7 linked regions of the Homo sapiens genome follow. The protein of the gene in region 6 interacts with the protein of the main gene of each other region in a pairwise test. Each region holds a gene or a part of one and is shown on either strand. Other genes may lie near its edges.

Region 1 (3,500 bases), on a different chromosome or scaffold from region 6:
AGAATGAAAGTGAGGATCAAAGGATGCAAGATGTGCCAAGTGCCTGGTCCAGCCCCTGCCCAAACAGGCAGAGTGTGATAAAGTGTCCAGGGAGGGGAAGCCCGCCCCCTGCCACGCAGCCCCCTTCTGGGCTAAGCAGCCTCGCACAGACTGTCCCTCAGGCGCTGATACTGGCCCCATGCCCTGGGCCACATATGCACACTATACACGCTCACACACACCCACCCCACTGGGAATGGCCAAGGTCCCATAGGTCCCCATGACTCATGCCTGAGGAAGAGGCAAGGAAGCCCAGCCCCCTGACCTACAGGCCCTAAGTCCCTTCCACCTGCTGGCCGCCTGGAGGGAGGCCTAGATTCTAACCCTGACCTCTGGGCCTGTCATGGGTCAGTGGCCCATCCTGCCTCTCCTGCCCCATGCAAGGGCTCCTCAGGGCTCTATCCTGGGCCTCTGCTCTCTCCACTCTCACTTGCTCCTGAGATTTTTATTTTATTTTCTTTAGACAGGGTCTCATTCTGTAGCCCAGACTGGAGTGCAGTGATGTGATCATAGCTCACTGCAGCCTTGAACTCCCAGGCTCAAGGGATCCTCCTGACTCAGCCTCCCGAGCAGCTGAGACTACAGGCATGAGCCATCATGCCAGGATAATAATAATAATAACAATAATAATTATTTGTAGACACAAGGTCCAGGCTGGTCTGGAATTCCTGGGATCAAATGATCCTCCTGCTTGGCCTCCCAAAGCACTGGGATTACAGGTGTGAGCCACCTCTCCTGGCCATTCTCCTGAGATTTTAAATGACAACTGCATGACAGACAACCCCATCTTTTGTCATGGCCCAGGATTTCTCCATCTGATGCCCCACCAGCTCTCCCATGCAGGGGCAGAAACCCCACTCCCACAGCCTGGTCCACCCCGGGCCTCAACTTACCAACTCAGAATTCAAGCCACAAGTCCCGGGGCACCTGCAAGAGGCCCTTTACACTACCACAGCCACGTGCTTTTGCAGCTTGCTTGCTTGTTTATTTATTTACTTATGAAAAGTAAATAAATTACTCTTAAAAAACTTTAAAAGTAAAGTTTATTTATTTACTTATGAAACCTTGCTCTGTTGCCCAGGCTGGAGTGCAGTGGTGTGACCTCAGCTCACTGCAACATCCACCTCCTGGGTTCAAGCAATTCTCCTGTCTCAGTCTCCCGAGTAGCTGGGACTACAGGTGCACACCACCACGCCCGGCTCATTTTTGTATTTTTAAGAGAGATGGGGTTTCACCATATTGGTCAGGCTGGTCTCGAACTCCTGACCTCAGGTGATCCACCTAAATCGGCCTCCCAAAGCGCTAGAATTACAGGTGTGAGCCACCGCACCCGGCCTTTTTTAATTAAAAAACAAATTTGTATAGACAGCATCTTGCTATGTTGTCCAGGCTGGTCTTGAACTCCAGGCCTCAAAGGATCCTCCCCATTCGGCCTCCCAAAGTGCTGGGATGACCAAGTGAGCCACTGTGCCTGTACTAAACAGAAGTCTGATGTGCCACCTTGCTCCATCTTCTCTATCTCCATCCTGGTCCATCCAAAGCCTCCACCCAGCCTCCCTTGGCCTGGGGAAGGGGCCTCATCCATAATTGCCTCACTGCACCCACCCCCACCCCTCTCTGCCTTCTTCCCCACCCAACAGCCAGAGAGATCTTCCCAATTTGCAGATCTGACTGCCCTTCCCCTGCACACACCCCTTCCACTGCATTCAGAGTTAAATGCCAGGCACTGGGCCACCCACCAAGGTCCTGACATCAAACAGCAGCCTCCTTTCCTGACCTTCCCCTCCCAGTCCATAAAGCTCCAGGCTTGACACCTTCTTTCCAGTTCTGGAATGCATCAAGCCATCTGCCACCCCCATCCCCTGCACCAAGGCCCTCACACCTGTTTGGCCCCGTTCTGCCTTCACCACCCAGATGAACATCATTTCTTTCAAACCCGCCCAGCCCAGGTCACATGGACTTCAAGTTCAGTATCTGTCTGCCCGCTAGACTGTTAAGTGTTGTGGGGCAGGTCCTAGTGTGTGTGTTTCACTGTTTTCAGCCTGAATTCAGAGGCTGGCACTCAGTAACTGAGCTGGATGAAAGACAAGGCCCCAGGGCTACTGGTCCTCTGGATAGAGGAAGGAATGAAGGAAGGAAGGACAGACATTTGCTAGTATTAATACATGCCAGTGTACCCCAGGCCTGAGTTTCCTTCCTCCCAGAGTCCCTGACATGTGGGAGGGGCTCAGCACTGAGGCATGACCCAGGGAACCAGGTCACCTGCCCTGACGGGCTCACCCGGAGACCTGGGGGTTAACCTTTTGTTTAAAGGGTATCTGTTTGGTCATCAGGGCTTTTCTCCCTGCAAATTGCCCAACACAGAACAGATTTTTTTTTTTTTTTGAGACAGAGTCTTGCTCCGTCATCCAGGCTGGAGTGCAGTGACGTGATCTCGGCTCACTGCAACCTCCGCCTCCACCTCCTGGGTTCAAGAGATTCTCCTGCCTCAGCTTCCCAAGTGGCTGGTATTACAGGCACCTGTCACCATGCCCGGCTAATTTTTGCATTTTTCTTTTTATACTTTATTTTTTGAAGTCTAATTACAGCCGTCCTTTTCTTTCTCTTTTTTGAGACGGAGTCTTGCTCTGTCGCCCAGGCTAGAGTGCAGTGGCGCAATCTCGGCCCACTGTAACCTCTGCCTCCTGGGTTCAAGTGGTTCTCCTGTCTCAGCCTCCCGAGTAGCTGGGATTACAGGCCTGCCACCACGCCTGGCTAATTTTTCTATTTTTAGCAGAGACGGTGTTTCACCATCTTGGCCAGGCTGGTCTCAAACTCCTGACCTGGTGATCCACCCGCCTCGGCCTCCCAAAGTGCTGGGATTACAGGCGTGAGCCACCGCTCCAGGCCTAATTTTTGCATTTTCAGTAGAGATGGGGTTTCATCAAGTTGGCCAAGTTGGTCTTGAACTCCTGACCTCAAGTGATCCACCCACCTTGGCCTCCCAAAGTGCTGGGATTACAGGCATGAACCACTGCACCCAGCCGATGGAACAGATTTATGAACCTCTAACTACTATAACGCTGGCACGCGCCCATCCTTAAACACGACAAATGTTCAGCTGGGATACGTTCTGCAGCTTGATTGTTGTTATATACCCTGATAAATAAGCTAAAAATGTGAGAAAACAAAATTAGTTTAGAAAAACTGATTTAGCCCTCGGCTTCATCGTTTAACTTTTTATGGTTACCATGACAACCAGGGGTCCACTTATTAAGTCACAGCGTCCCCTGTGTAATGCCATCACACAGGCAGTGCAGGGGGGCCACCAGCCATGGACTTACCTTAAAGTCATCCGGAAGCAGCAGCTTGGACGTCCGCAGGAAGCTCAGGACGTAGCGGAAAATCTCCCCATCCCGGTCAATGAAATAATGTTGCTTCAAACTGTCCAGGACGATGGGTTCAGTGCCATTGAAGAGGCG
Region 2 (3,500 bases), on a different chromosome or scaffold from region 6:
TGGGCCTCAGCTCCACCAGGGTAAGGTGGGCACCCCTCAGGCTCTAGCTAGAACAAACTGCATGTGTGGAAATCAGTATCAGGCTTCTGGGAAACACTGGCCTACCCGGACCCAGTGACCAATTCCAGGAAACAAGGAAACACTAAGAAAAGCCCACCTGGTCAGGTGCGGTGGCTCACGCCTGTAATCCTAGCAGTTTGGGAGGCTGAGGCAGGTGGATCACCTGAGGTCAGGAGTTCGAGACCAGCCTGGCCAACATGGCGAAACCCTGTCTCTACTAAAAATACAAAAATTAGCTGGGCATGGTGGCACACGCCTGTAATCCCAGCTACTCAGGAGGGTGAGGCAGGAGAATCGCTTGAACCTGGGAAGCAGAGGATGCACTGAACCGAGATCGCGCCACTGCACTCCAGCCTGGGCGACAGAGCAAGACTCTTGTCTCAAAAAATAAAAAATAAAAAAATAGGCCAGGCGTGGTGTACTTTGCGAGGCCAAGGCAGTTGGATCACCTGAGGTCAAGAGTTTGAGACCAACCTGGCCAACATGGGAAAACCCTGTCTCTACTAAAAATACAAAAATTAGCCGGGTATGGTGGCGCACGCCTGTAATCCCAGCTACTAGGGAGGGTGAGGCAGGAGAATTGCTTGAACCTGGGAGGCAGAGGTTGTAGTGAGCCGGGCTTGTGCTACTACATGCCAGCCTGGGCAACAGAGCAAGATTCCGTCTCAAAAAACAAACAAACAGAAAAAGAAAAGCTCAGCTTTCAGGCCAGCCTTCCTCATCATTCAGATCCCCTGCCCCGGCCCCGTGTACCAGGAAACCTGAGCACCACCCACCCCACCCACCCCACCCACCCCTACTGTGGGCTCTGCCATAGAGCAGCCTCTCTGAGGCCTGGCCCAGGAGCGCTGCCTGCGAGGTCCCTACTGTGCTTCCCTCTCAGGAGGGCTCACCTGGAGAGGGGCTCTCCGCCCGGGGAAGGCCTCCTTCTGCCACTTCCCTGTCTTTGGGTGAGTCCTTGCTGTCTGGGCCCCTGAGCTGGGTGTGGGAGAAGAGCTGCAAGACGAAGCCGGCGGGGAAGCTGCCGTCAGTGAAGTGTCGGACCTCGGCTGGTGCTGCGAAAGTCTCCGTGGGCGAGTCTGGCGATGGGGGCTCTGGAAGGGAGGACGGGATGGAACTGTGAGTGAAAAAGCCTCAGGAGCTGCAGGCGCCCTGCGCCCAGGCCCTGCTCCATCCTCACTGATGCGGATTTCCTCAGAGCACTGCGGCCAGAGCCCACGCCTCCCCCGGGCCTCCCCTTCACCTGGGTCAGGGTCCAGGTTTTTGGTCATAGGTCTGCCTCTTTTCTTTCTGACTGGCTCTTCCCCTGGGGGTTCCTTCCATCTCTGACCACGGGGCTTCTTATTTCCTGGCTCTGTGGCAGGGACAGCTGCAAAAAGAAAAGACCTCATACCCTTTTAAAGAGGCCATCCCCGAACCCTGCCACCCCAGGGCTCCTGAAGATACCTGCCCAGAACACAGGGCCTGTATTTCACCCTGTCCCCAAACCCCCACCTCCACCGGGGCTCACTGGCTTCTCTGTTGACTAACCAGGAAGCTCGAGGGGGCGGAGTCCCCTGGGCCGGCTCCTTTTAGGGAGGGATGGGTTATCCTCAGAGTCAAGGAGAACGACGATTTCGGCTGGCATTCTGGCAGCGTCTGGGTTGGCGTCTGGGTCTGGGTGGGCATCCTGGCCCGAGTCTGCAGGGAGCAAGAGCACAATGAGCTTCTAGTGCCCCAACAAGTCCGACTTCTCCCTTCGCCAGCCCCAGGACCAACTACCTGAGTTGGGTGGGGACGGCTGCTCAGCTCTCACGTCTTGCAAGAGGGCCACCCCTTCACTCCAGGCCTCCAGGATATTGCTCTTCTCAGAAGGGCTCAGGTCCAAGGTGTGAGGGTGCTGCTCCAAGATGTGCGAGCGAGCTGTGTCGGCCGAGGGTGCCCGGATCTCAGCGCCACACACCATGCACAGTGCCCGCCCGCTGCCTCCTGGGCTGCTGCCCACCAGGAACTCCTGCTCCCAAGACACCTGCTGCTTCGGCTCCTCACAGCCATCACTGCCTGCCTCTAGCGGGCTGGGTCTAGGCGGTGGGGTCTTCTCCTGTTGGGTCACTGCGAGGGGAGAGGGGGAGGGTGTTATCACTAAAGGTGCCCACAACCAACAACACTTAGCACGTCTCCAGACTCAGTGGTTTGAGTGGGATGGGGGAGGAGAGCATTTCTGGCCAAAGTGTTCTTCTTCCTTCCCCTGGAGCCCATGAGGCACACGCCACACTCAACACAGCCGATGTGCCCGGGATCCCACGACTCTCGCGTCTATACTTCCTCTTGATCTAGTCTTGGACCTTAGGACTAACTACACATACTTTCCCAACAGGCTGCATTCTTGCAGGTCTCCAGCCTTTGCACATCTGTCCAGACCACCCTAATTGGGCTGGGCAACATCATCCCTGCGAAGCTTTCCAGAACCCCAATCCCTGACAATAGATTTCATCCAAATCTGACTTCTACACTTTCTTGAGGATGAGGAAGGTAAATTCTTTTAATTTTTAAATTTTATTTATTTATTTTGAGACAGAGTCTCACTTTGTCACCCAGGCTGGAATGCAATGGCGTAATCTCAGCTCATTGCAGCCTTGACCTCCTGGGTTCAAGCGATCCTCCTGCTTCAGCCTCCCAAGCACCTGGGACTACAGGTGAGCGCCACCATGCCTGGCTAATAATTTTTTTTTTAAAAGATGGGGGTCTCATTTTGTCACCCAGGCTGGAGTACAGTGGTGTTATCATAGCTTACTGCTGCCTTCAACTCCTGGACTCAAGGGACCCTCCAGCCTTAGCCACCTGAGTAGCTAGGGCTACAGATAGATGCATGCTATCACACCCAGCTAATTAACAAACAAAAAAATAATTTTTAAGAGATGGGGTCTTGCTATGTTGCCCAGGCTGGTTGTGAACTCCCGGGCTCAAGCAATCCTCCTGCTTCAGCCTCCCAAAGTGCTGGGATTATAGGCATGAGCCACCATGCCCGTTCTAAAGGCCACCCCATCCCCTCAGAACTCGCCTCCCTTCTCAGTGCTCACAGAGCATTTACAGCCATGGTCCCACTCCTATTGCTGCCTGATACCTGCTCTTTGTGTACACAGACAGACCATAAGCTTTCACAGGGCATCACCCTTTCCAGTTCAGCAAAGAAGGCAGCCTTAGACCTGCATCAGCCTGGAAGCTCAGTGCTTTTACGAAGTGCCCATGATCCTTCACGGCTGCATCTCCCTCCTACCTTCCAGAGAGGATGGGACAAAATTAAAACACAGGAGGCCCTAATACCTGGGGGCTGCATGGAAGAGGTGGTATGAGAAATAGGAGCCTCGGCTTGCATGGATACAAGAGGTGGTGTCTGAAAGAGATACGAGATATGTCTTGTACCTATCTCTCATGCGACCATGGGCAGAAATGACCTCTCA
Region 3 (3,500 bases), on a different chromosome or scaffold from region 6:
TGAATTATCCCTGACCTTATCATATTTCTTTCCCAATCATTAAAGCTGACATCAAATTTAAAATACTGAGAAAAACAGAACTATACTTACGGAAGCTCAGCAAGGCTTTCGAATCCTCCCAAGCTCTCGGCCAGAGTAAATAGCTATAGCAAAGAAAACATGAATTTAGATTTTCTAGTAAAATAAAAATACTAAAATCTAAAAATAAATGTTTTTAGGCCAGGCACAGTGGCTCATGCCTGTAATCCCAGCACTTTGGGAGGCCAAGTCAGGCGGATCACCGAGGTCAGGAGTTCGAGACCAGCCTGGCCAACTAGTGAAACCCCATCTCTACTAAAAATACAAAAATTAGCTGAGCATGGTGGCACGCACCTGTAATCCCAGCTACCTGGAAGGCTGAAGCAGGAGTATCACTTCAACCCAGGAGGTGGAGGTTGCAGTGAGCCGAGATCATGCCACTGAACTCCAGTCTGGGCAAAAGAGTGAAACTCTGCCTAAAAAAAAAAAAAAAAAAAAAAAAATTATTGCATTTGAGACTTTGCTCTGTGGTTACCACTTAAATAAAAAAATCTCTAAATGCTTCCCAAGTTATACATACTTCCTTGTTAATATATATCACTTATGAAATACATCCTTTAAATCCCTGCTGGAATAGGGGAAAAAAAAAAAACCACTGTTTTTATGTTGAGTGTGATAGTGTCATAAAACTTTACAAATGTTTTAAAAGTTACTTTGGTAAATGTATTAAATTAAGGTGACACCAGGAACACTTTGACTAATCTGGCAGCTTTCTGTTAATCTATTCTGTAGTATATAAACTGCATGAGCTCAAGGTTAAGCCCAGTGTATGGAGTTGGACAGGCCTCTTGCTCAAGGCCCCTGAGAGCCTCCTCCTGGCTTTTTGAAAATTAGACAAAGGCCTCACCCCAGTCAGATGCAGCTTAGGAGGCACAGGGTTTGGAAAGCCATTCACAGGATGGATTTTAGAACAGCCCTTGTGCAGTGCACTAACTGCACACTACTTCGAGGTTTTACCTATTTCATCTGAAAAAAGGGGTTCACTTTTAAATAAATGCATTAGAATACTCTGTGTCTCCAAACTGATTGTAGTATGTGGAGAGTTAAGTAAGTGAACATATTTAGATGTCTGCTACATTGTTGTTTAAGTTGTTTTCAACCCAATGCATTTCATGATAAAGAGGTTTATGAGTGTAACCTGCAGATACAAAAACATTATCTGGCTTGAGTAGAAGTGAGAGATAGTGAACTGCTGTAAGGCCTTACCTCCTACAATTTTAAACCTATTTTGTAAGTTTACCTTTAGGTTCTTGAGGAAAATCTCAGCATGCTGAAGAGTGCCCTTAATATAAAAGGTGACCATCCCTGTACAACCTGTACACTGACGCTTCACCAACTCATGCTGTGGATGAGAGGGCAGCCCTGTAATCATAAGGTATCATAAGTCTTATTTTAGAATTAAACATGTAATTTTTGGGGGGGGAGGGTGGTATTTTTCACTGTCTACTTAACTGCAAATAAGCCTAAGACGAGGATTATGCCATGCTCACATCTGACTACTTGCTTGGGCCCCTATCTCTCCAGCTTCATGTTGCCTCATCTTTTCTACCCTCTTCAGCTTTCTTTATGCCAGCACCACTGCACTCCCTTTCATCTCAGGACCTTTGCACATGCTGTCCCTTCAACCTGGACTTCCCTTGTTAATTATATCCTGTAATTTCTTGCTTAGTATCTGTCTTAGCCACCAGAGTTGCTCCATGAGGGCAAATCCATTTCTTTTGTTACTAATTGGATCCCAGTTCCTAGTGCAAAGCCTGGCTCATAGCTGGCGTTTAATAAAAATTTCTTGAATAAATCTCCAATACCTTGTCTATGCCCTTTTAACCAATGCTGCCCATTCTTCATGGCATAGCTCAAAACTCTTCTCTCTCCCTCCATCCAAAATATATATCAATCAACAGCTCTTTACCTAAAGTACCTTTAGGGCATTTAGTTTCATATGTATTTCGCTTTGGTTTCTCTAAATTCCTTGTGAATTTCCTAGTGAAATTCCAGTCTTAATTTTTCTATATATTCTAGATGCTAGAACCCTCAAAAGGATCTAAAAAGAAAAGAACTACTTAGGACCACCACAGCTTAAAAGACTGGTAAAAATAAATTCAAAAAGTAAGATGTAAGTCAGCCAACTCCACAGAAGACTTTCTAGATGCTGGAAGAGGTGAAGGAATAAAAATACAGGAGAGAAATACAGGAGAGAACCTCAGGGGGCTGGGCGTAGTGGCTCACGCCTGTAATCCCAGCACTTTGAGAGGCCAAGGCAGGCAGATCACCTGAGGTCAGGAGTTCGAGACCAGACTGGCCAACATGGTGAAACCCCGTCTTTACTAAAAATACAAAAAATAGCTGGGCGTGGTGGCGGGCACCTGTAATCCCAGCTACTCGGGAGGCTGAGGCAAGAGAATCACTTGAACCCGGGAGGCAGAGGTTGCAGTGAGCTGAAATTGCATCATTGCACTCCAGCCTGGGCAAGAGTGAAACTCCGTCTCAAAAAAAAAAAAAAAAAAAAAGAGAGAGAGAGAACCTCAGGGGAATTTTAGCACCTAATATCAAGTCTCAACTGGGACAAACCTCTATCAGATTAAAGTGACAGCTAATGCTGAATAGCAGACAGACAAGATTATAAGCAAATCAACTGAAAAGTCTAATGTTAAAATCTTTGAATAGGTATACACAAGCCTTCAAATCACAGACCACCACAGGAACAACTAATGCATAAAACTGATTTTCTACTATCCAAGCATCCACTAAACTAGAGGCAATACAACAGTAGAGACCAGGTCTATCTTCTTTCCACCTGACCCACCACAGAGCCTGACACATGGCAGTGCTCAATAATAAATGAACAAAAACAATACGTGAAAGCACCTAACTTACAAATAAATGTTACATAAACACGATGCTCAGGATAACTGCTGAAATCCTAGTAGATCTGCTTAGAAATCAAATTAACATACCAGGATAAATAACCTTTTCTACCCAAGGATTAGATTCCAGGAACTGGGCAACTGCCATTCCGTTTTTGAAATGCTTTTCCATTCGGACATGTAGAGTCTTCAGACCTCGATTGCAGAGGTAACAATCAATAGGAGATGGAACTGCTCCAAGAGCTGCAAAATGAACACATCCTGGATAAGTTTGAAGGCAGGGTATGGCCAAGAAATTATCTGGCTTCTCTTTTCCATTACAGTGACTCTCAGAAGCTAGGTGTAAAGCTCAATGTTTGAGTTCTAGGAGGAAAATAATATATCAAATCAGAAGCAGAAGAACAAAGCATAGAATATGCTTAGAGAAATTTACTTTAAAATGAGGGGAAGCAAATATGCTGAAAACTAAGTAAAAGCACAATGATATAAACTTCTCAAATATGAAGATAAGTAGTCCTTTCTATGATTTTAATAAAATCATAAATTGTTCATAGCCTA
Region 4 (3,500 bases), on a different chromosome or scaffold from region 6:
GGGTGTGGTGGCTTATGCCTGTAATCCCTGCACTTTGGGAGGCCAAGGTGGGTTGGATTCCTTAGAGGATCACGTGAGGTTGGGAGTTCTAGACCAGCCTGGCCAACATGGTGAAACCCTGTCTCTACTAATAATACAAAAATTAGCCAGGCGTGGTGGCACAGTAATCCCAGCTACTCGGAGGCTGAGGCAGGAGAACTGCTTGAACCCGGGAGGTGGAGGTTGCAGTGAGCCGAGATCGTGCCATTGCACTCCAGCCTGGGTGACAAAAGCAAAACTGTCTCAAAAAAAAAACCAAAAAACAGTATGGGTTCCTTGACCATCCTGGTCAGCATAACTTTAGGGGGTTAAGCGGGGTGAAAACCATCTAAGGACACAGAGGTGGCCTTAGCTTGAAATAATTGTCCCCATGTCTAGAAAATGTTCCTGGGGGTTCCATAGTTGATGCCCTAGCCATGCCACGTTGCCCCAGAAGGAGAGTGGGGACCTGGCCTAGAATGTCTTGACTTTGAATTCCCTTGGCAGGTTGTATGAAATCTTGGAATTGGCTGAGGACATGGAAATTGACATCCCCCACGTGTGGCTCTACCTAGCGGAACTGGTAACACCCATTCTGCAGGAAGGTGGGGTGCCCATGGGGGAGCTGTTCAGGTAAGTCCCCCTGGGTGGAATTCAGGGGAGGTAAAGACCAGAGGAAAGGTGGTAGGGAAATGGCTGGGTTGGATACCCTGGTTTGGAGGGAGATGGAGTAGTGGTGAGAGAACTGTGGAGGCTGTCAGCATTAGGTTTTTCTCTTCTTGTAGGGAGATTACAAAGCCTCTGAGACCGTTGGGCAAAGCTGCTTCCCTGTTGCTGGAGATCCTGGGCCTCCTGTGCAAAAGCATGGTGAGTGAGGGCCAGGAGTCCAGAGATGCCTCCCACGGTGTGGTTTTGGCTGTTTGCTGTGGCCCTGAAGCTTCATGGTCCATTGGTGGAGTGGAGTGATGGTGATGACAGGATTGTGTTGGTACCTGGGAGAGGAAATACTGAGGTGGGCCATCTCCCGCACACCAGTTCCTATCATGAGTTCTGGCCAAGACTGGAGGAGAATGGCAGTCTAAGACCCTAGGCCTGTGATTGATGCATTTATTTATTCATTCATTGAACTAGGGTTTTGTTGATGATCATTTATCATATACTAAGCACTAGGGACACAGCAATGAATAAAACACAAGAAACAAGTTGGTAGAGAAAAAGGAAGAAATGGGCCGGGCGCAGTGGCTCACGCCTGTAATCCCAGCACTTTGAGAGGCCGACGTGGGTGGATCACGAGGTCAGGAGTTCAAGACCAGCTTGGCCAATATGGTGAAACCCCATCTCTACTAAAAACACAAAAATTAGCCGTGTTGTGGCAGGTGCCTGTAATTCCACCTACTCAGGAGGCTGAGGCAGGAGAATCACTTGACCCGGGAGGCGGAGGTAGCAGTGAGCCGAGATTGTGCCACTGCACTCCAGCCTGGGAAACAGAGCAAGACTCTGTCTCCAAAAAAGAAAAAAGAAATGACAGCTTGATAAAAACAACAGTAAAGCGTGACATAAAACAGTTGAAATAGAGTGGAGTATCTTAAGTACTGTGGGGTTGCAAAGGAATATTTGACAATATTTGTGACAGGAGGCTTTCAGGGTGCTGAAGCGGCTTTGTGAAAGTTAATTGGTAACTAGCGAATATAAAGGTAAAGAGATGGGGAAAGGTAAGTTGAATGTGGTACTTAGTGGAAGTGAGAAGTTGGGGTGAGTGTGTGCAGTTTCAAGGGTTCAGCCATCTGGAACCTGGAGGAATCACACTTGGGATTTAAAGGAATTGTTATGTCAACATCATTTAATTCTTTTAAATAGACGTGTACCAGGACAAGTTGTTTTTTAACAACAAATAAGCATATTGAACTATTTGTGTATTTCATCAACTCCAAGGTGCCATAGATTATAAGACATTCTTTATGCGCTGTTAAGAAAGAAAAGACTGGGCCGGGCGTGGTAATCCCAGCACTTTGGGAGGCAGAGGTGGGTGGATCACGTGAGGTCAGGAGTTGGAAACCAGCCTGGCCAACATGATGAAACCCTGTATCTACTAAAAATACAAAAAAATTAGCTGGACATGGTGGTGCGCACCTGTAGTCCCAGCTACTTGGGAGGCTGAGGCAGGAGAATTGCTTGAACCCAGGAGGGGGAGGTTGCAGTAAGCCAAGATTGTGCCACTGCACTCCAGCCTGGGCGACAGAGCAAGACTCTGTCTCAAAATAAAAAAAGATATATATCGGCTGTAAGACAACTTTTAGTTAAAATGTGAAAAAATGGGCATGTTTTAAAATCTGTGAACTGCAATAATCTTGCTAAGAGCCAGTGCCATTAGTCTGTTATAAAGAAAAGAGTGATGTCTTCATAGTCTATTGCCCCTTACAGAAAATGCACTCAGACTGCTGGTTTTATGAGGATTTTTTATTTGTGTTAGGGATGGGGTATATTTGTGTCTTAAGATTTTCTGGGTTTAGGAAACAAGCATACTTGTTAGAAGTTGTCCCTTCCTAGAGGCCCTTACATCATTTTTCCTACCCTAGTGTCATAGCACTTTGGTGGACAAGTTCTCTTTTATTTTATTTTATTATTATTATTTTTTTGAGACAGAGTCTCGCTGTGTCGCCCAGGCTGGAGTGCAGTGGCGTGATCTCAGCTCATTGCAACCCTCGCCTTGGGTTCAAGCGATTCTCCTGCCTCAGCCTCCCGAGTAGCTGGGATTACAGGCACCCACCACCACGCCTGGCTAATTTTTGTATTTTCTGTAGAGACGGGGTTTCACCATGTTGGTCAGGCTGGTCTCCGACTCCTGACCTCAGGTGATCCGCCCACCTCGACCTTTCAGAGTGCTAGGATTACAGGCGTGAGCCACCGCCCGCTCCTGGGACGAGTTCTTATTTATTTGGGTGGTTATTTGACTGACATCTGTGCCCTGCACCAGACCGTAGGAATGGAAGGGCTTTGCCTATTAGTATTTCTATAGCATCCTTAATGCCTAGCAAGTACCTAGTAGGCTTTCAGTAAATATTTGTTGGATTAATGTGGTAGAGCTGTTGGGTCCTTGGAGAGAGAGAGCTTTGGTAAGCTGGGTTGGTCTTGTGTTTTCCAGGGTCCTAAAAAGGTGGGGACGCTGTGGCGAGAAGCCGGGCTTAGCTGGAAGGAATTTCTACCTGAAGGCCAGGACATTGGTGCATTCGTCGCTGAACAGGTTTGGGGATGGAGTTGGGTTAATTCTAGCATTTGAGGCTGGCCAGTCTTCTTTCTTGTCTCCTGTTGGCAACCTTACCTCTTAACTGCGGGCCTTTTCCATTGCAGAAGGTGGAGTATACCCTGGGAGAGGAGTCGGAAGCCCCTGGCCAGAGGGCACTCCCCTCCGAGGAGCTGAACAGGCAGCTGGAGAAGCTGCTGAAGGAGGGCAGCAGTAACCAGCGGGTGTTCGACTGGATAGA
Region 5 (3,500 bases), on a different chromosome or scaffold from region 6:
GGCTGTGATCATGCCACTGCACTCTAGCCTGGGCAACAGAGCAAGGCCCTGTCTCTAAAATAGTAATAATAATCAAAACTCCTCATTCCTCCCTCCCCTAATCCCTGGCAACCACACATATATTTGTGAAAGGGTGTGTTAGTGTCACCCCAACTTGCCAGTGCTCAAGAGTAGGCAGAGAACCTGCTGAGTGGCAAGATTATGACCAAGTGAACACATTTGTGTAACCACCATCAGATGAATTACTAACACTCTCTCAGCAGCCCCTTTTCTAATCACTATCCTCTCCTTTTGTCCCGGCAGCAAACTCCTTCCTGACACTATAGGTTGGTTTTGCCTATTTTTGAATTTATGTTAATGAAATCATATAGTATGTATTCCTTTACATCTGGTTTCTTTTGTTCAACATGTTTATAAAGTTTATCCACATTATGTGTAGCAGTAGTTTGTTCATTTTCATAATTGCATACTATTGCATGTTATGAGTACACTACAATTTATTCTACTGGTTTGGTTTTGTTTGTTGAGACAGAGTCTCTGTTGCCCAGGCTGGAGTACAGCGTTGCAGTCATAGCTCACTGTACCCTCAACTTCCTGGGCTCAAGCAATCCTCCCACTTTGGCCTCCTGAGTAGCTGGGACTACAGGCATATGCCACCACTATTGGCTAACTTTTAAATTTTTTATAGAGATGGGGTCTCATATGTTGCTCAGGCTGGTCTTGAATTCCTGGGTTCAAATGATTCTCTTGTATCAGCCTCCCAAACTGCTGGAATTATGGGCATGAGCCCCTATGCCTGGCTTCCATCTTTTTCTGTTTGGATATCTGGTTCACCCTACATCATATATTGAAAAAACCGTTCTTTCCCCCATTGCTTTGCAGTGCTACCTTCTTCATAAATCAAATGTTCATATATGTGTTGCTCTATTTATGGACTCTATTCTGTTCCTCTGGTCCGTTTGTCTCCTTGTGTCAGTACTTCTCTGCTTTATTTACTGTGGCCTAATAAGTCTTGATATCCATTAGTGTGAATATTCCAACTATAGTCTTTTTTTTTTTTTTTTGACACAGGGTCTCGCTTTGTCACCCAGGCTGGAATGCAGTGGTGAGATCATGGCTCACTGCAGCCTTAACTTCCGGGCTCTAGTGATCCTCCTGCCTCAGCCTCCTGAGTAGCTGGGACAACAGGCACACACCATCATGCCTGGCTAATTTTTGTATTTTGGGTAGAGGTGGGGTTTTGCCATGTTGCCCAGGCTGGTCTTGAACTCTTGAGCTCAAGCAATCTGCTCAGCCTCCAACTATATTCTTACTCCTTAACATTGTCCTAGATATTCTTGGCCCTTTGCATTCCCATGTAAATTTTAGAATCAACTTGTCAATTTATACACCTACTGCCTGCCATACCCACCAAAAAACTCTAACTGGATTTTAATTGGGCTGTATTGAAACAGATAAATTCTGAAAGATCTTTCATTTTTATAATACGGAACCTTCCAATATATTAATATGATCTGTCTCTCAACTTGTTTAGGTCATCTTTAATTTCTCTCAATGTGGCCAGGTGTGGTGGCTCACAACTGTAATCCCAGCACTTTGGGAGACCAAGGCGGGAGGGTACCTTGAGCCCAGGAGTTCAAGACCAGCCTGGGCAACATGGCAAAATCCCATCTCTACAAAAAAAATACAAAAGTTAGCTGAGTGTGGTGGCATGTGCCTGTAGTCCCAGCTACTTGGGAGGTTGAGGCTGTGGTGAGCCATGATTGCCCCATTGCATTCCAGCCTGGGCGACAGGGAGAGAACCTGTCTCAAAAAAAAAAAAATTGGCCGGGCACGGTGGCTCATGCCTGTAATCCCAGCACTTTGGGAGGCTGAGGCGGGCAGATCGCGAGATCAGGAGTTCGAGACCAGCGTGGCCAACATGGTGAAACCCCGTCTCTACTAGAAATACAAAAATTACCTGGGCACGGAGAAGGGGTGCCTGTAATCCCAACTACTCGGGAGGCTGAGGCAGGAGAATTGCCTGAACCTGGGAGGCAGAGGTTGCAGTGAGCCGAGATTGCACTCCAGCCTGGGTGACAGAGCAAGACTCCATTGCAGGAAAAAAAAAAAATCCACTCTGGCCATGTTTGTCTTTTTAGTGGACTATTCAATCCATTTACATTTACTCTAAGTAATTATATATTTGGATTTTAACCTATCATCTCACTTTTGGCCTTTCAAGTCTTCACTGCTTTGATACCTCTCTGATCTGTTAAACAGAAATTGGCCTATATTTTGTTTAGCCTTGTTCTTGGTAGGAAGGCTGGTTTGTGAGAAGGTAGTCTGCCATCACTAGCTGTGGGAAAATCATTCCTTTTCCACATTCTTCTGTTTTCCTTCTCTCCTGTGTTTAGGGACTGCCCATGAATTCAAGAAGCATTTTGAATTGCCAATTTTGAAGGGTCGAGACGCTGCTGCTAGTGAGGCAGACAGGCAGCTAGGAGAGGAGCGGCTGCGGGAGCTCACCAGCATTGTGAATAGGTAATGACCTTAAGCGAAGTCATTAGAATTGCCTCCCAAACCATCCATGGCCAATCCTTTGGGGGCTTTGCCTCTCTAGAGCCCTCAAAGGCTGGGATTCTAGGAAGGGAGTGGGTTCTGTGTCCTAACTATGGCCACTGAATAAACAAGGGAGTCTTGGAGGTGAAGTGCCTGCTTTCTTTCTGGCTTGGGCTCTGTGGTCTGGTTTTGGTCTGTTTATCAGCCTGCTGAGGAAGCTTTTCTCTGATGCTGCTGGACTTCTTGAGCAAAGTATACCTTGGAGCATTACTAGTATTTCAGAAGCTTCCTGTCAGTTGGTCTCAGACCCGAAACATTAGGCTTCTCTTCCCAGGCCCCATAGTCATTCTGTGACAGGTAGGAGAAGATCTGAAAGGTGGTTGTGGCTCCCAGGCTAAGGGGACTGACTTTTTCATGGGAGTTACATAACCCAGAGGGTAGGCACATTCTGGACTCCTTTGTCCAGAGGTGGTATGCACACTTGATAGGTTACATTCTAAAGAGTCCTCCTGCCCTTCCCAACAACTGCCTGGCTACCTGGCTACCTCTCCCTACCAATTTTAGATGGCAGGACGGGCATGGTGGCTCACGCCTATAATCCCACCACTTTGGGAAGCTGAGGCGAGTGGATCACTTGAGGTAAGGAGTTCGAGACCAGCCTGGCCAACATGGGGAAACTCCCATCTCTACTAAATATACAGAAATTAGCTGGGTGTGGTTGGGGTGCACCTGTAGTCCCGGTTACTCTGGAGGGAGAGGCTGGAGAATCGCTTGAACTCGAGAGGCAGAGGTTGGAGTGAGCTGAGCTGCGCCACTGCACCCCAGCCTGGGTGACAGAGCAAGACTCCGTCTCAAAAAAAAAAAATTAGATGGCAGGAAGAAGAATTGGTGTTTTCTTAAGATCTGCTTCTTAGGTGCCTGATACCTATCCTTCATAGTCTTCCCAGGAGGTCTATGCT
Region 6 (3,500 bases):
CATGTGAGATCGGTCAGAAGCAAAGTTCTTCAAATATGAATCTGCACGGATCACTCTAAATTTCCTGCAGAAAAATCAATATACACTCACATTAGGGAGATGTCATGTTTGAAATTCTAACTCCATTTTTATATCGACTCATTTCCTATGACATGCACAAAACTACTCATGCATTTCTGTATGGTTAGTAATACAGGCAACTTTACTACCTATTAGAGAAGCATAGGAAATGATCAACCAAACCCCGAAACAGAAAGGCAAAGGCACAAAAATATATCTGGTTGCCTCGATTTACTCGATTTGTGTATCAAGGGCAATGGGCATGATTTTCTGATGCTGCCCTCACAGCCCTCTCAATGGTGACAGCACGAGGTATCCCCACAAAAACAAAAAGAATATAAGAAAAATCCCCAACCCGCTTGAAATTAAATGTCTGAGATCTCATCACACAAAATTTTAAAAGAATGACAACCTTTCATATGATAGATAACTTTTAAAGCTTTAAAACATTTTGAATCTCCTGTGTTGCAAATACATCATTCTTAAACATCAACTCAATGGTGATGTCAGACGAGATCTTTACAAAACAATTGTCAAAAAAAAAAAGAACCTCTGTGGAATCGTCAAATTCTTACTTCAGAAAATAAGTAAATCCATCTTGAATGTCCTCACCTCCTAAACTGTGGGTGAATGTCATCATCAGACTTAAAGGCATCTTCTACATAAGTGTCAAAGAGGCAGGGAAATGGCAAGACAGTATCGAGATCATAAATGAAGTTCTGTCCTCCACTTGAAACATGAAGCAAAACAACATGGTAATCCTAAAAGTAAAAGTTGCTGAAGTTAACCAAGTTACTTCATAATGATGAAATCCCAGTATTCAGACACATACCTTATCACTAAAAAGGATATAGGACTGCTACAGCCCTCCTTATAATAGCAAAATAGAATAAAGCAAACACAACACCCTGAAAACATGAAAACAGACTAAATGTCCACAGATAGGGAAATGGTTAAATAATGGAAATGTTCATAGTCATTAAATGCACATCCTCTGAAACTGCAATTTTACCTCTAGGAAACTTTTTTTTTTTTTTTTTTTTTGAGATGGAGTCTTACTCTCGTCACCCAGGTTGGAGTGCAGTGGCATGATCTCAGCTCACTGCAACCTCCACCTGCCGGGTTCAAGCAATTCTCTTGCCTCAGCCTCCCGAGTAGCTGGGATTACAAGCGCGCACCACGATGCCCAGCTAATTTTTTGTATTTTTAGTAGAGATAGGGTTTCATCATGCTGGCAAGGCTGGTCTTGAACCCCTGACCTCAGGCGATCCACCCGCCTCAGTCTCCAAAAGTGCTAGGATTACAGGTGTGAGCCACGGTGCCTGGCCCCACATATTTTTTTTAATTGAGACAGAGTCTTGCTCTATCACCCAGGCTGGCGTGCAGTGGCATAATCTCAGCTCACTGCAACCTCCGCCTCCTGGGTTCAAGCGATTCTCCTGCCTCAGCCTCCTGAGTAGCTGGGACTACAGACACCCGCCACCACGCCCAGCTAATTTTTGTATTTTTAGTAGAGATGGTGTTTCACCATGTTGGCCAGGCTGGTCTCCAACTTCTGGCCTCAAGTGATCCCCCCGCCTCAGCCTCCCAAAGTCCTGGAATTACAGGTGTGAGCCACAGTGCCGGCCCCACCTGCTATTTGTTAAAAGCTATCTGTATATAAAGACATACGTGCGCATTCAGAAGTACATTTGCATGCATGTGAATGCAGAGGAAAACGTCTGCAAGGATCTGCTCCAAACTAGTAACAAAGGAGGCTTCTGGGGGTCAGCCTGGAGAGGAGAAGGAGGACTTTAATTTCTAGTTTGGAACCACTTTTGCAATTAAAAGAAAGGAAAAACTATTTTTTAAAAAAAGAAGTTAGCCAAGCTTTCATCTGTAGCCACTAAGGGAGAAAGAAAAAGACAGCTTTTCCCACACAGCTCTGTCACAGTGTGGATGTTAATTCTCACCCTCACTCTCAGACTCAAGGTACTGCCCAACACCAGCGATGAGCTGAAAGGGATTTCAGGGAGGTGATCAAGGGACATGAGCAATGTGGTGCTCTGAGTTCTTCCAAAGAAAAACGCTCTCATAGAGAACAGCACTGTGAAATCAAAGCAACCTAGCAACATTAGTAATACCAACTTATATTTCTACAATATCTTAGAGTTTAAAAGGCACTTTCTTTCTCAAATATCATTCTACTTGAGCCCTGTATAAATCCTGAGGTAAGAACAATACTTAAGACTAGGGATGCTGTGCCTTTAAAAGCCTGAGTGCTGCCTTTGGCTCTAAGTCTGTCTTAGCAAAACAGAAAGATTCAAAAATGAATGCCTATTCTCTGGACTTCCCCAGATACATCCTATCCTCCACGCCCCCAAACAGTCCACCACTGCCTCCCAATGGGTCTGCTCATGTCATTCCCCTCCATCTGCAGCAACCTTCTCTACCTCTTTCTACCACACAAGCTCCAGCTAAAGGCTTTCTTCCCACGAATCAATTTTTTATCTTCTCCCACCCCCTGCCAGAATCTCCGCCTTATCCAAATTCTGTTTCTCTCTTAACATCTTCTAATTCATATTACAGGTTTGTTGTTGTTGTTGTTTTGAGACAGAGTCTCTCTCTGTCACCCAGGCTGGAGCACAGTGGCACAATCCCAGCTCACTGCAACCTCCACCTCCGGGGTTCGAGTGATTTTCCCACCTCAGCCTCCCGAGTAGCTGGGATTACAGGCGCGCCACCACACCCAGCTAATTTTTGTATTTTTAGTAGAGATGGGGTTTCACCATGTTGACCAGGCTGGTCTCGAACTCCTGGCCTCAAGTGATCTCCCTGCCTCTGCCTCCCAAAGTGCTGGGATTATGGGTGTGAGCCACTGTGCCCAGTCCCATATCAGTTTTTTTGAACCACACATTATCTATTCTATGTGAAAGACTGTGCTGCTGAACTGCAGATGCAAAGATGAAAAAGATAAGTTCTCACCCTCAAGAAGTTCCCAGAGAAGTGAATGGGAACCAGGTAAACTGCTGCAGGATATTGTGGAGAACAGAGAACATCAGAGGCAGGAGAGCAATGCAGGCAGGAGAGCAATGCAGGCAGGAGCAGGTAAGCGCCTGGTTCCAATCTCAGCCCCTCCCCTCGGCAACCTCACTCTGCTCTTTTATAAAATGGAGATAACTGGAGTATCTAACTCCAGGGTGTCCAATCTTTTGGCTTCCCTGGGCCACACTGGAAGAAGAATTGTCTTGGGCCACACATAAAATACACTAACACTAACGATTGCTGATAAGCTAAAAAAAAAAAAAATCACAAAAAAATTTCATAATGTTTTAAGAAAGTTTACAAATTTGTGTTGGGCTGCATTTAAAGCTGTCTTGGGCCACATGCAGCCCATAGGCTGCAGGTTAGACAAGCTTGGTCTACCTCATAGTGCTGCTAGAAGCATTAGTGTGTAAATG
Region 7 (4,121 bases), on a different chromosome or scaffold from region 6:
GGCAGGGAAGGGCTGAGTCCCATGTTTTTGGTAAGTGCTGTCCCGTCAGCCCCCACCTTGATTCTGGTCATGGCCTGGGACCCTCCCACTGCTGACCTAAGTGCAGCCCTCTCAGACCAATGTCTCCCGCTCCCTGAGACCAATGATCCCAGTATAAGAGAGGGGTCTCAGCACATAGTCCTGCACATGCTCTCTGGGGAGACAGCAGGGGCAGAGCAGATTTCTAAGCAGCCCTCTGTGTTCTGGCCAGGAGGAACCCTCAATCCTCCCTCAGGTTTCTCACCTGGACTCTTGGCAGATCCTGGGACCACTGTAGTTGTGGACCATATGGGGCTCTTTCTGTTGACTGGAAGTCGTCCTCTGAGAACATAGTGCTCACCTGCCCAAGATTCCAAAACAGAAGTAAGGGGCCCCACGTCCCATCACCCCATCATGTGGTTGTCCAGGGCTGACAGCAGAGGCTGGACCCTTCGGTTCTGGGGATTCCAAAGTCCTCCTGTGGGTTTTTCATCTTTACTTCTGCCAGGGCCTGTCCTTCCTTGACTCCCAACCCCTGAGATGAGCAGACATATCCCTTTACACCAAGACCTCATCTCCCTGAAGGTTTCCCAACTTTCTGCCTGTGGTACAAGTGACCTTGCCACTTGGGGCCACCCGTGATGAGGTCCCCACACAGCCAAGGACAGGGGACAGAGAGACTCTGTGGGATCCCTTCATTATGGGATGTGGGTATCTCCAGTCCTCACCAAGGGGACACATACACCTTGAGTCCTAAAGATCCTGGGACTCCTCCCTCTGCTGATCAGGTGTGGCTCCACCTGCTGACCTGTCATCACCCCCTTGAAACAAGGTGCTCACCTCCCTGAGCAAGGTGCCACCCCCAACCTCGTGGCAGAAATGTGAGCATGGCACATGCCTCCCCAACTTGGGCCTCCGAGGGATGAAAACAGAGGAAGCAAGGATTGGTGAGGTCCCTTTTTCTTTGGCATGTGGGAGGGTACATTCTTACCTTCAGTCTTCATCAATTTTCCTCTCCTTGACTACTGGCAGATCCTGGACTCCACCCTGTGCTGACCAGGTGTGTATCCCTCTGCTGACCTGAGGACCTGCCTCAGACCAAGGGCCCCACCTCTCTGAGATATGGGAGGCAGAAAGTGAAGGGGCACTACATGGACACCCCTCATGGGATGCCAAAGGCTGACAGATGAAGCAGATTTCAGGGGTGCCTCCTCTCTCTGGGTTTCCTCCAGGTATTCAGATTTACTCCTGACAAGGCCTATCCATGTCTCTCCTGCTGAACTGTGGATGAGTTTTGCAGGCCACGACCACCATCTCCCAGAGAACCCCAACTAGGAAGTGGGGAGCTGCCTCTCTTTCCTAGAGTCCTGCTTGGGGCCTCCAAGGACCGATGGCAGGGGCAGGTTTTCTACCTCAGGGATAATTGGTTGCCTGAGTCCTCCCTCTGGGACTCCTCCCTGGGTTGACCTGAGGCTCCACTCCTCAGACCACAACCCACTCCTTGCTGACACCCCAAAGGCAGAGTGAGGATGCACCACATGTGGCCACCGTGCCTTGGAACTCCAAGGGCCAAGGTCCCTACTGACCTGGAGTCCAAAGTCTCCTGAGTCCTCCCTCTTCTTCTTCCTCTTGATGCTGGCAGGGCTGCACCCCAGACCCCCTCTGCGGAACTGAGTCTCCATCCCTCAGATTCCCAAGGCTGAATGAAAAGGCACCTCAGTTTGAGACGGCGGGACTATGGGGGGGGGCTGTTCTGGGGTGCTGGGTCCCTTCAGTTGTCCCTCAGGCCTTGCTCACCTCCCAGCAGGGACTGAGCCCTGTCTGTGCTCCCCCTAGGTCTTTCTCATGATACCAAGCCCCTTCCCTCTGTCAGCCCAGGATGCGGAAATCAGGATCCACTTGCCTGGCAGCAATGCCAGGAACTTCCCAGGACTGACAGCAGAGAGGGAGCCTTGCTCTGTGGGGCCTCAGCCCTCCCTCGGGGTCCTGACCTTGATGCCTGGCAGAACCTGGGTCCTGCCCCCCCCAACCAGCCCTGCCCTGGTCACACCAAGCTCTGACCCCACAGTCCCCTGAGGCTTAAGCGGCGGGGGGCAGAAGCCGAGGGGGGTGTCAGAGGGGACGGCCCAGCCTGAGAAGTCCATCCCCATGGGGTGATCCAGGGCTGGCAGCAGAGGCGGTGCTGGATTATCTGGGGTCCTCTATCTGGGTAGGGAGCATCCTCAGTCCTCCCTCAGCATCTCATCTTGCCTCCTCACAGAGCCTGGGCCCGCTGCCCTCAGCAGGTCACAAGCCGCCCTTCAGAACCGGGCTATCACTTCTCTCTGACCCCCTAATGTGCAACTCCGCAGTACCAAGCCCGGAGGTCCTTTGCGTTGTCTGCAGGGACAAGGATGGACTTTGTGGCCCCTCTATCAGGATGGGGTGGAACCTCTCCATAATTTCTCAGAGTCCTGATGTTGATGCCTGGAAAGGCCGGGGCCCCACCCTTTATGGAACTGCCTCTGCCCGGGTCACACCATAGACTCGCAGAGTCTCCTTGGGCATTGAGGAGGGGGATTGTCTCAGCCTGATAATTTGGTCCCCTGTTGTTTCAGGGCTGGCTCCAGGGTTGGCGCTGGATTATTTGGGGCCCTCTATCTGGGTAGGAGGACTCCTCAGTCCTCCCTCAGCTCTCACCTTGCCTCCTCATGGAGCCTGGACCCGCTGCCCTCTGCCACTCTCAAGACACCCCTCAGAAAGACGCTTTCGCTTCTCTCAGATCCCAGAGGCGGAAGCCAATGGAGGTCACATCCGGCCCCCACGCCTGGAGCTTCCCTGGATTTACAGCAGGAGCGAACCCGATTCTGCCCGTGTGGGGGCGGGGCGAGGCGAGGCGGGGCGGGGCGAGGCGAGGCGGGGCGGGGCGGGGTGGGGCAGGGGGAAAAGTAGTGGCGAGGGGTGCAGATGTGGTCGAGGGTCATGGGGGTGCCTCAGTCCTCCCTCAGGTTTCTGACCTTGATTCCTTGCAGAGCCTGGAGCTCCGTCCTCTGCCAATGATGTCTGCTCCTCTCGGACCAAGTCTCTGACTCTGAGTCCCCTGAGGTGGCAGTGAGCGGGAGGTGTGAGGTCGGGGGACAACATTGCCAAGGTCTTCCGGGGCTGACAGGAGGGACCGAGCTGGATTCTGTGGCCCCTCTATGTGGGGAGGGTGGACCGTCAGTCCTCACTCAGGAGGGTCCTCCTCTTGGCTACTGGTTCTTTCATGAAGTGATGGGTGGGAGATGCTCTGTTTCTGTCACCTCTGAGCATTGCCCAACTGCACCCCTTGCAGACAATAGCTGCGGATCCCAGGCTAGGTGCTTCCATGTGGCTTCAGTACCCGTGATTGTAGTGACCTCTGGGAGAAGATGCACACCTTCCTACGGGGGCTCCTCCCCAGCCAGATCTAGACTTTGCAAACTTTTGCCCTGAAAGCTTTATTTTTACACTGAAGAGGCTGAGTGGCTGCAAGAAATTTGCGGAAGTCCTGCGTTTAGAATTTATCTAACACTTCATAGTTCATTTTAGTGATTTTCATTTTTTAATTCTCATTCAGTGTCAAAAATCATACTTAACCTAACTGCCTATTTCACTCTAATGGTCAATACTCTAATTTAATCCATTCTTTATCTTCAATTAAAACGATAATTTTTAAAAAGCCAATCTTTATTTACTGACGTGGTTTTAGTGGTTATCAGCACAAATTCCAGCCGTATTCCTTTAATCAACCAGTGTTTCCTCATGTCCTGAAGTTACCCCATGACTACTGGCACCTGTGGTCTGAGACCCTACCCGAGTTTTCCACAGTGAAGTAGGGGCAGAATTTTAAACATTTCTTTCTTCCTATCCACCCCAACTTCCCTGCCACTCTTCCCCGCCAATCACAAGTATTCCTTCAAAATACAATGAAATTCTCAGGGCTCTCTCATGTTTTTTTTGTTTAGATTTCTTTTTTGATATTGTTTGCTTGTTCCTTTATTTATTTATTTTTATTCTTTAGTTTTCCCGGGTTGTTTTGGGGAGTCTAAGATAGAAGCCCAAGACTGAACGCGGTGGTTCACACCTGTAATCCAAACACTTTG

Evidence for each region.
Region 1: the proteins of NTAQ1 (region 6) and KCTD15 interact in binary tests that used the Homo sapiens proteins (3 or more experiments, as listed by UniProt).
Region 2: the proteins of NTAQ1 (region 6) and SPINDOC interact in binary tests that used the Homo sapiens proteins (3 or more experiments, as listed by UniProt).
Region 3: the proteins of NTAQ1 (region 6) and CTH interact in binary tests that used the Homo sapiens proteins (3 or more experiments, as listed by UniProt).
Region 4: the proteins of NTAQ1 (region 6) and EIF4G1 interact in binary tests that used the Homo sapiens proteins (3 or more experiments, as listed by UniProt).
Region 5: the proteins of NTAQ1 (region 6) and RAD54L interact in binary tests that used the Homo sapiens proteins (3 or more experiments, as listed by UniProt).
Region 7: the proteins of NTAQ1 (region 6) and MAGEA11 interact in binary tests that used the Homo sapiens proteins (3 or more experiments, as listed by UniProt).

Annotation. Positions count from the first base shown.
Region 1 is NC_000019.10:33,806,870-33,810,369, reverse strand, and holds part of KCTD15 (BTB/POZ domain-containing protein KCTD15), read right to left. Parts: coding exon 3,363-3,500; intron 1-3,362. UniProt on the Homo sapiens protein: During embryonic development, it is involved in neural crest formation. Inhibits AP2 transcriptional activity by interaction with its activation domain.
Region 2 is NC_000011.10:63,816,456-63,819,955, reverse strand, and holds part of SPINDOC (spindlin interactor and repressor of chromatin-binding protein), read right to left. Parts: intron 2,152-3,500; coding exon 1,822-2,151; intron 1,741-1,821; coding exon 1,591-1,740; intron 1,430-1,590; coding exon 1,304-1,429; intron 1,155-1,303; coding exon 954-1,154; intron 1-953. UniProt on the Homo sapiens protein: Chromatin protein that stabilizes SPIN1 and enhances its association with histone H3 trimethylated at both 'Lys-4' and 'Lys-9' (H3K4me3K9me3).
Region 3 is NC_000001.11:70,431,768-70,435,267, reverse strand, and holds part of CTH (cystathionine gamma-lyase), read right to left. Parts: intron 3,186-3,500; coding exon 3,033-3,185; intron 1,441-3,032; coding exon 1,319-1,440; intron 144-1,318; coding exon 91-143; intron 1-90. UniProt on the Homo sapiens protein: Catalyzes the last step in the trans-sulfuration pathway from L-methionine to L-cysteine in a pyridoxal-5'-phosphate (PLP)-dependent manner, which consists on cleaving the L,L-cystathionine molecule into L-cysteine, ammonia and 2-oxobutanoate.
Region 4 is NC_000003.12:184,328,106-184,331,605, forward strand, and holds part of EIF4G1 (eukaryotic translation initiation factor 4 gamma 1), read left to right. Parts: intron 1-525; coding exon 526-651; intron 652-803; coding exon 804-885; intron 886-3,160; coding exon 3,161-3,259; intron 3,260-3,366; coding exon 3,367-3,500.
Region 5 is NC_000001.11:46,268,263-46,271,762, forward strand, and holds part of RAD54L (DNA repair and recombination protein RAD54-like), read left to right. Parts: intron 1-2,396; coding exon 2,397-2,523; intron 2,524-3,500. UniProt on the Homo sapiens protein: Plays an essential role in homologous recombination (HR) which is a major pathway for repairing DNA double-strand breaks (DSBs), single-stranded DNA (ssDNA) gaps, and stalled or collapsed replication forks.
Region 6 is NC_000008.11:123,433,774-123,437,273, reverse strand, and holds part of NTAQ1 (protein N-terminal glutamine amidohydrolase), read right to left. Parts: intron 1,833-3,500; exon of another isoform or gene 1,762-1,832; coding exon of another isoform or gene 1,732-1,761; intron 822-1,731; coding exon 673-821; intron 65-672; coding exon 1-64. UniProt on the Homo sapiens protein: Mediates the side-chain deamidation of N-terminal glutamine residues to glutamate, an important step in N-end rule pathway of protein degradation.
Region 7 is NC_000023.11:149,710,739-149,714,859, reverse strand, and holds the start of MAGEA11 (melanoma-associated antigen 11), read right to left. Parts: upstream 2,801-4,121; 5' UTR 2,698-2,800; intron 1,718-2,697; 5' UTR 1,701-1,717; coding exon 1,605-1,700; intron 1,591-1,604; exon of another isoform or gene 834-1,590; coding exon of another isoform or gene 762-833; intron 380-761; coding exon 284-379; intron 1-283. UniProt on the Homo sapiens protein: Acts as androgen receptor coregulator that increases androgen receptor activity by modulating the receptors interdomain interaction. May play a role in embryonal development and tumor transformation or aspects of tumor progression.